3 linked regions of the Homo sapiens genome follow. The protein of the gene in region 1 interacts with the protein of each later gene in a biochemical or structural test. Each region holds a gene or a part of one and is shown on either strand. Other genes may lie near its edges.

Region 1 (2,634 bases):
TGGATGGGTAGGTGGATGGATGGATAGAGAGATATATGATGGTTAATGGATGAATGAGTAGATGATGACTAGATGGGTAGATGGATGGATGGATAGATGGATGGTTGGGTGGATGGATGGATGGATGGATGGGTAGCTGGTTGTGTGGTTTACACTTTAGCTCTGGAACCTACAGACCAGCCCTCCTTACCTCTACCCCTTTGTTTCTTTCTTCCAGGTTGTGGGCATTTTTGCAGGATTTGGGCTGCTGCTCTTGGTGGCCTCACCTTTCCTACTCCTGGCCACTCCCTTTGTACTTTGCTGCAAGTGCAAGTGCAGTAAAGGTGACGACGACCCGTTACCCACCTAGAGGAAGCGCGATGCTGGAACACATCCCTGCCTCCGGGAAGTGTGGCTCTCCCCCAACCCTCCCCACCGTCCCCCCTTCACTAAACATCTTTCTTGCCTTATGTGCCCCATTGAGCTTCACAGTGTCAGGCTGGACGCCGTGATTTCAGGGACCTATGTCACAATGTTCGCTGAGGCCCCAGGTGTGGTGGGGAGGGGAGGCAGGTGTGGGTAGCGCACATCCCCACAGATCAATCTCTGCAGATGACAGGGAGGTGCTGTGAGAAGTGCACCAGGCAGCTTTCTCTCTGTGGTAGACTAGGCATGTCTGGGGATGGCCTAAGAGACTTTCTGCTCCTTGGCTTCTAGATGGCACCATGTTGTCAGAGAAGTCTTTTAAGGACTGCCACTCTCTTCAGACAGAATCTGATTATTCCAGCTTGAGAGAAGCACTCTGTTTATGACAACTGTTTTTATTACTAATGGCATTTAGTAAAATCCTTTTTAGAAGGTATTTTTTTTCCAACTGAGTAGTGAAAATCAACAAGGTGCATATAAACCATCCTATGCCTTTCTTGAAATGTGCATTTTAAGAAGTTATAGTTAAACGACTTTTCAGGAGATTTAGAAAGCCTTATGCACTCTTTGTGTTTTTCTTGAAACTTGCTGTAGTAACTTTTTGAACGCTGTAAGCTGTGTACTGTTATAAGTGTGCTTCCTATATTGTTGCATTTCCTTGATAATATTGACGTGTTTAAAGGAACATCTCATCTCCATTAGATTTGCCTTTTGTTGTTTTCTCTCTTTGGTGATTCAGCTCAGCTCATGGGCCTCATCCCTTCTCTCCCAGGTAGCAGAAAACGCTTTTTATTGTATTCAATCCCACTGCTTTGCTCGGCAATGGTTCTCCTCCGAATTGCTGCCGTCTGGCCTCTGGCCTCAGTCTTCAGATAGACAGTAAGAAGAAAGCAGCCTCATTGATCCGCAGATGTAGGGGCCTCTTGGCAGAGGCTGGAGGACTCTGGGGGCTAGGGAAGAGCCTGCCAGATTTTCACATTTTTAAAATGTTCTAGTCATTTTGAGAAATCATATATCTTACACAGTTCCAAGTCCTGTTGCTAACCGTTTTGCTCTTGTTGGGGAAAAGAACCTCCCATTTCACTTCGTTTTAACGTGGGGATTTTACCACTTGATCTTTTACAGGGCTGTCTGTGACCATTTCCATGGCAGCAGGATGCAGGGATTAATAAGGACACATACACATTATTCCACCAATTGACTTTGAAAAGTGGAGAAAGTGTATTCTTTAAAGAGAATTTACTTCTAAAAGCCACAGGTGCTTTTACAAAGCAAACTGCATTGAATTTAAAACTTCTAAAAATAACAGGCAAATATTGTAGCTATATTACAGTGGGATTTTAAAAATCTTGTTAAACATTCTATAAAGAAGTAAAACAAAATCCTTTTATCTCAGTTATTTGCCCATCACAAGCACATTTTTAAAATGTTGCTTTGTGTGTGTTTGACTTCTGCATTTGAGTATCAGTCTCAGGTCCTAGTTTACTTTCCCTGGTTGGAAATTTATTTCTTATTTCCTAACATTGAATTCGTTAGAAAAAACAGCGTCACCTCACTCTTCACCTGTCATGTTGATTTTCCTTATGAACCCGAAGCCATTTAGAAAATCCCTGTGTGTCAAAATTACATTCAAAAAGCTCTCCTTGTAATTGCAAGTTTAGTAACTCAGTAAGAACATGCCTGCGACTCCCTTTCTGGATGGAACCTGGGCTGTGGCTCTCTGTCGTTTGTGGTGCTGTGATGGTGTCTACTGTTAGAATAGCTTTTCTGGAGGTGGGTGGCAACTCCACGCGGGAGTCATTGGCTGGGCTTGAGCCCTCAGCCTGTGATATGTGGATGCAGCTGTCCAGCCACTGCCCTTTAACATGCCCAGCACACATGGGAGGCCTGTGGCCCTGTGTCCAGTGGCCCACAGGACACGCCTCCACCATATGCTCATCCTTCCTGCCTGAAATTGCTGCTGCCCATCGCATGAGCCCACACAGTAGCACCCCCGTCCTTAGGATGAGAGTCAGAGCCTTTGGAAAGGCTGCATCCCCAGGGCTAGAGCTCAGATGACCTTATTTCTAGAGGGACAGGCTGTTCTGTTGGAAGAGTCTCTGGCCCAGTCATGCACATCTGTAGCCCCAGCCATCCTTGTGCCTTCACCTCTGATGTGTTTCACAAGCACGTAGTTCAACCCAGATAGGGACCACAGAGATTCTGGGGCCAGCCAGGGGCAGTCAAATT
Region 2 (2,410 bases), on another chromosome or scaffold:
AGTCTCTTCTCCTTTGTGGAGGCGAGCCCGGGGTCTGGGGAAGTAAGTAAGTGAAAAATAAACTCGGTGCCAGAAAGTGGGAGTGGCAAGGGTAGGGAAGAAAGGGAACCACAACCGTTTTTTTTCCTTTTTTTTAAACCTTATGGGTTAAATGTAACTTGAAGATTTTGGATAAAATTGGACAAGAAAAGAAACACCATTCTTTTGAAGTAGATTGAAGCAGTGATTTTTAAAACAAAGAGAGCAGAACTAGAACATCTTAAATTTTTAATCCTTTCTTTACAGGTTACCTAGACCACTTTTGATTAAGAAAACTGTAGAAAGTTAGTAACTGCCACAAGCGAACGCCAGGCGGTGGCACGTGTCAATTTCCACAGAGTCCTGCTTTGCGGGGTGTCTGAATGCACTGCACGGGGTCTCTGCTCACACTTGCTGGAACCAATCGTGGCAGATTTTAGTCCACAGGTCGCTTTTCCCCATATTTCTTTGTAAACTCTTCAGCATTCTTACAGAATTTTTTACGGTCCTTAGAGTATTCTTCAGCTAGGTCAGCCCGAAGCGGGTGCTCAGGCTGGGGGTCATTCACCAGTGCTATGAGGGACTGGATTACTGCCAAGAGAAGGACAAGGCATGGGGGGTTAACACAGTCTCAGAAATGGCACAGGCAAGAGGCAGCTAATCCGGGAACAAAACTCTGGCTTTACAACTGATTTACAGCTAATGTGCTTTTAAGCCAAAGCTGCCTCCTATTTATCCAAAATTCTGACTGCCAGAAAACTCATCTTTCCTCTGTGATTAGAAGACACTGATGGACAACAAATAGCTAACACTACAGTGGATAATTGTTCACAGTGATGTGCTTCCGCCTCCAGGAAGCCTTCCTGACCTAACACCTGGGGAGGTCTTAGCCCTCAGTCACTCCCAGCCCTTTTTTCTTGGCGGGGGGTTGGGGAGGAGGGACAGGGTCTCACTCTGTCACCTAGGCTGCAGTGCAGTGGCACCATCTTGGCTCACTGCAGCCTCAACCTCCTGGGTTGACCTCAAGCAATCCTCCAGCCTCAGTCCCCCAAGTAGCCAGGACTACAGTCGTGCACCACCATGCCCGGCTAATCCAGTCCTCTTGTGTACTCTGGAGATAGGAGGCCTAGTATTGAACTGACTGCTCACTCTCATGCATGCACACAGGGTCACTTTCTTCAGGGCAGGACCGGGTAGAACTTCCCTGCATCAGCCCAGCACCCAGCACCATGCTCGGCTCAGGGAAGTTTCGGTTAAGGTGACTGAGTGGGCACTAGAGAGAAGGGTATGTGATGGCGCTGCACTTGTCAATGCGCAATGACCCAACTCTGGAAGACCCTTAGGAGTTTCTGAACCCTCTAGAAAGGGTCACTGGGGCCAGCCAATGGGAAGCTGACAACCGCCATCGCATCACATTGTCAAGACCACAGGCAGATGTCACGCTGATGGCTCTGATGGGTGCCACAGTACTCCCCCTAGGTGCCGTAGCCCAGACGTGCCCCAGGGTGGAAGGATAGTGGGGAATCAGAAGCAGCTGCTACCCACACCTCCTCACATACTTTGCCACAGTTGCCCCCTGACCCTGTCAGGACCAGCACCCTCAGAATGTTCCTTCCCACTGTAAAACAGTGCCCCTCTTCTCCGAACTGCTGATGCCACAAATTCCTTCTTATTTTTTTTAGACAGTCTTGCTGTCACTCAGACTGGAGTGCAGTGGCTCAATCATACTTTACTGCACGGTACCCTCAAACTCCTGGGTGTAAATGATCCTCCTGCCTCAGCTTCCTGAGTAGCTGAGACTACAAGCACATGCCATCACGTCCAGCTAATTTTTTTTTTTAACCTAGGCTAGAGTACAGTGGTGCAATCACAGCTCACTGCAGTCTTATCTCCTGGGCTCAAACAATCCTCCCACCTTGGCCTTGAGAGTAGTTGGGATTACGGGTGTTAGCCACTGCTCCTGGCCTAGTTTTTTGTAGAGATGGGGTCTCACTATGTTGCCCAGGCTGGTCTCAAACTCCTGGGCTTGAGTGATCCTACCGCCTCATCCTCCCAAAAGTGCTAGGATGACAGGCATGAAGCCACTGCACCTGGTCAATTCCTTTATTAAGGGCTCATATTGTTCATTCAGCATTACAAGAAATGGATTAAAATGCAAATGCTAGCCAGGCAGATCACCTGAGGTCAGGAGCTCAAGACCAGCCTGGGCAACATGGTGAAACCCCGTCTCTACTAAAAATACAAAAATTAGCCAGGCATGGTGGCCCATGCCTAGAGTCCCAGCTACTCAGGAGGCTGAGGCAGGAGAATCGCTTGAACCCGGGAGACGGCAGTTGCAGTGAGCCGAGATCGTGCCACTGCACTCTAGCTTGGGCAACAGAGCGAGACTCTG
Region 3 (3,500 bases), on another chromosome or scaffold:
ACCTTGGGTCTGGTGATGACTTTTTACAAACACCAAAAGCCCAATCCACTAAAGAAGTAACTGATTAACTAGACTTCACAAAATTAAGAACTTCTGCTCTGCGGAAGACCAGCCACACACTGAGAAAAAATATTTTCAAAAGACATATGACAAAGGGCTGTTATCCAAAATATACCAAGAACTCTTAGGACTCAACAGTAAGAAAACAAACAATGTGATTTTAAAAAGAGCAAAACCAGGAGTTTGAGACCAGTCTGGGCAACAAGGTGGGGCCCTGTCTCTACAAAAAATTTAAAAAAATTAGCCAGGCATGGTGGTGCGCACCTGTAGTCCCAGCTACTCAAGAGGCTGAGGTGGGAGACAGAGGTCAAGGCTGCAGCGAACTGTGATCACACCACTGCACTCTAGCCTGGGCGACGGAGCAAGACAGTCTTAAAAAAAAAAAAAAAAAGTGGGGGTAGGGGCAGGCAAAAGACATTTCACCAAAGATATACAGATGGTAAATAAACGTATGAGAAGATGTTCAAGATAATTACAGTATTAGGGAAATGCAAATTAAAACAATAATAAAATACTATATATCTATTGGAATGGCCAAAATCCAAAACAATGATAACACCAAATGCTGGCAAAGATGTATAATGATACGAACTCTCATCTATTGCTGGTGGGAATGGAAAATGATTCAGCTTTTTGAAAGACAGCTTGGCAGTTTCTTACAAAACTAAATATACTCTTACCACATGATCCAGCAATTGTACTCCTTGATTACCCAAAGGAGTTGAAAACTTATGTCCCCATAAAAACCTGCACATGGTGGGTGTTTCTAGCAGCTTTGTTCATAATCACCAAAACTTGGAAGCAATCAAGATGTCCTTCAGCAGGTCAATGAATAAACAAACTGTGGTAATCCAGACAATGGAATATTATTCAGTAATAAAAAGAAATGAGCTATCAATACGACAAGACATGGAGGAATCTTTTTTTTTTTTTTTTTTTGAGATGGAGTTTCGCTCTGTTGCCAGGCTGGAGTGCAGTGGCATGATCTCGGCTCACTGCAACCTCCGCCTCCCAGTACAACCAATTCTCCTGTCTCGGCCTCCCGAGTAGCTGGGACTACAGGTGCACACCACCACACCGGCTAATTTTTGTATTTTTAATAGAGACAGGGTTTCACCATATTGGCCAGGCTGGTCTCGAACTCCTGACCTCGTAATCTGCTGGGCTCGGCCTCCCAAAGTGCTGGGATTACAGATGTGAGCCACCGTGCCCGGCTCGACATGGAGGAATCTTAAGAGCACATTGCTAGTGAGAGAAGCCAATCTGAAAAGGCTACCTTCTGTATGATTCCAACTATATTATATTCTGGAAAAGGAAAAACTATGGAGAAAGCAAAAAGATCAGTGGTTACTGGAGGTTAGAGGGGAGGGAGGAATGACTAGGCAAAGCACAGAGATTTCCCAGGCAGTGAAAGGACTCTGGAGGCTACCATAAAGGTACATGCATGTCAATGTATGTTTGTTAAAACTGACAGAATGTACAATGCAAAGAGTGAGCCCTCATGTAAACTACAGACCTCGAGGGATAACGATGTGTCAATGTGGCTCATCAGTTATAACCATGGACCACTCCGATAACGATGTGTCAATGTAGCTCATCAGCTATAACCATGGACCACTCTGGTGGCGATGTTGATTGTGGACAAAAGTCTGTGTATGTGTGGGGTGGGTAGGGCTAGCGGGTATATGGAAACTCTGTACTTTACTCAATTTTGCTGTGAACCTAAAACTGCTATAAGAAAAAAAGTCTACATACAGAAGAATGTCATGAACCTGGGAGGCGGAGCTTACGGTGAGCCGAGATCACACCACTGCACCCCAGCTTGGGTGACAGAGCGAGAATCCGTCTCCAACAACAACGAAAAAAGTTTACATATAAAAAAAGGTTAAACAGACAATGGAACAGAAATTTTTAAAAGGACCCCAAAATACAGAGATTTTGTGCATGATACAAGACACCTCTCAATGGGGGAGATGAATAAGCCAATAAACAAAGTACAAAAAATTAGCTGGGCATGGTGGCAGGCACCACGCTACTCGGGAGGCTGAGGCAGGAGAATCGCCTGAACCCGGGAGGCGGAGGTGGCAGTGAGCCAAGACCATGCCACAGCACTCCAGCCTGGGCAACAGAGTGAGACTCCATCTCGAAAACAAAACAAAAACAAAAACAACAACAAAAAAACAAAGTAGGGAAACTAGATCATCATCTGGAAAAAAATAAAACTGGAGTCACGCCTCACACCACACATCAGCACACACCGGGATAACTCTCAAATAGAGTAAACATTTAGATGTTAAAAGAAATAAGGAACCATAAAATTACACGTACTGGATGTAGTTCATCTGTATCCCCAGGGTGGGCTACCTGACAGTGGCTGCTGGTGCCACAGCCTTGTTCCCTAGCACTGTCACTGCCTCAGGGTAAGGGCCACACCCTGGCATACCCACCCTGTAGTGACCACCACAGTAACAAACACAGCACTGTCACCAACAGGCCAACTCTTTCAAAACCAGGGACTGAGAGTCCTCCCGCCACTTCCAGATCTAGAGGCAGCTCTGGCTGCAGGGCGTGACTGTGCAGAGGCCAGGAACACAGTCTGGAAGTGCAGAGAACCACAGCACCTCCAGCGAGCTAAAACCAATGAGAAACAAGAGGCAGAAAGAACCAATGGATAATGCTGCTCCCTTCCTCCTGCTCCGAGGGGCTTTTCTGAAGCTTAGTGGCAAAGGACTTGCGTGAGGGCATCCTGCATGACCAAGCCATTGGCTGTTTCTCATGAAGCCATGGCCAGCTTGACAGCGTATGGCACTGTGCTTGCCCTCCTGCCTCCCCTTCCTCCCTCTCTCTTGCTGCCCTAGGATTACCTCTCCTAATAAAGCTTTTAATAGCTTTGCTTTCTGCTCTGCTATGTCACCTGACGTGACCTGTACTAAGACATGGGAGAAGACATAAAAGGAGAAAACTGTGGAGACAGTAAAAAGAGCAGTGGTTGTCAGGAATTAGGAGGGATAAACAGGGGATTTTTAGAGCAGTGAAACTGATGCAGGGCAGGCCAGCCCTAAATTGGGGATTGGCCTGGGCGGGTCCTTGGCTTCGCTCTGGAAAGCATTTAAGAGCGAGCTCGTGGTAGAAGAAAGCAGCTTTATTGAGGCAGCAGTGTTATGGCTCTGTGACTGCTCCTGCAGAGCAGGGCTACCCCACAGGCACTGTGCTGAGAGCAGCAGCTCAAAGGCAGTTCTGAAGTCATATTTACACCCACTTTTAATTATATGCAAATTAAGGGGCAGACTATGCAGACATGTTAAGAAACGGGGTGGTAACTTTTAGGTCATCAGATTGTTGTCACAGAAAGGGGTGGTAACTTCCGGGTATTGCCATGGCAATGGTAAACTGATATGGCACACTGGTGGGTGTTTTATGGAAAGCTGCTTCGTCCCTGT

The links.
Region 2: the proteins of RNF144A (region 1) and UBE2L3 form a complex in vitro, tested with the Homo sapiens proteins (3 studies listed by BioGRID).
Region 3: the proteins of RNF144A (region 1) and PARP1 form a complex in vitro, tested with the Homo sapiens proteins (one study listed by BioGRID).

The regions. Positions count from the first base shown.
Region 1 is NC_000002.12:7,039,412-7,042,045, forward strand, and holds part of RNF144A (E3 ubiquitin-protein ligase RNF144A), read left to right. Parts: intron 1-217; coding exon 218-349; 3' UTR 350-2,634. UniProt on the Homo sapiens protein: E3 ubiquitin-protein ligase which accepts ubiquitin from E2 ubiquitin-conjugating enzymes UBE2L3 and UBE2L6 in the form of a thioester and then directly transfers the ubiquitin to targeted substrates.
Region 2 is NC_000022.11:21,619,714-21,622,123, reverse strand, and holds part of UBE2L3 (ubiquitin-conjugating enzyme E2 L3), read right to left. Parts: intron 610-2,410; coding exon 455-609; 3' UTR 1-454. UniProt on the Homo sapiens protein: Ubiquitin-conjugating enzyme E2 that specifically acts with HECT-type and RBR family E3 ubiquitin-protein ligases.
Region 3 is NC_000001.11:226,398,094-226,401,593, forward strand, and holds part of PARP1 (poly [ADP-ribose] polymerase 1), read right to left. Parts: intron 1-3,500. UniProt on the Homo sapiens protein: Poly-ADP-ribosyltransferase that mediates poly-ADP-ribosylation of proteins and plays a key role in DNA repair.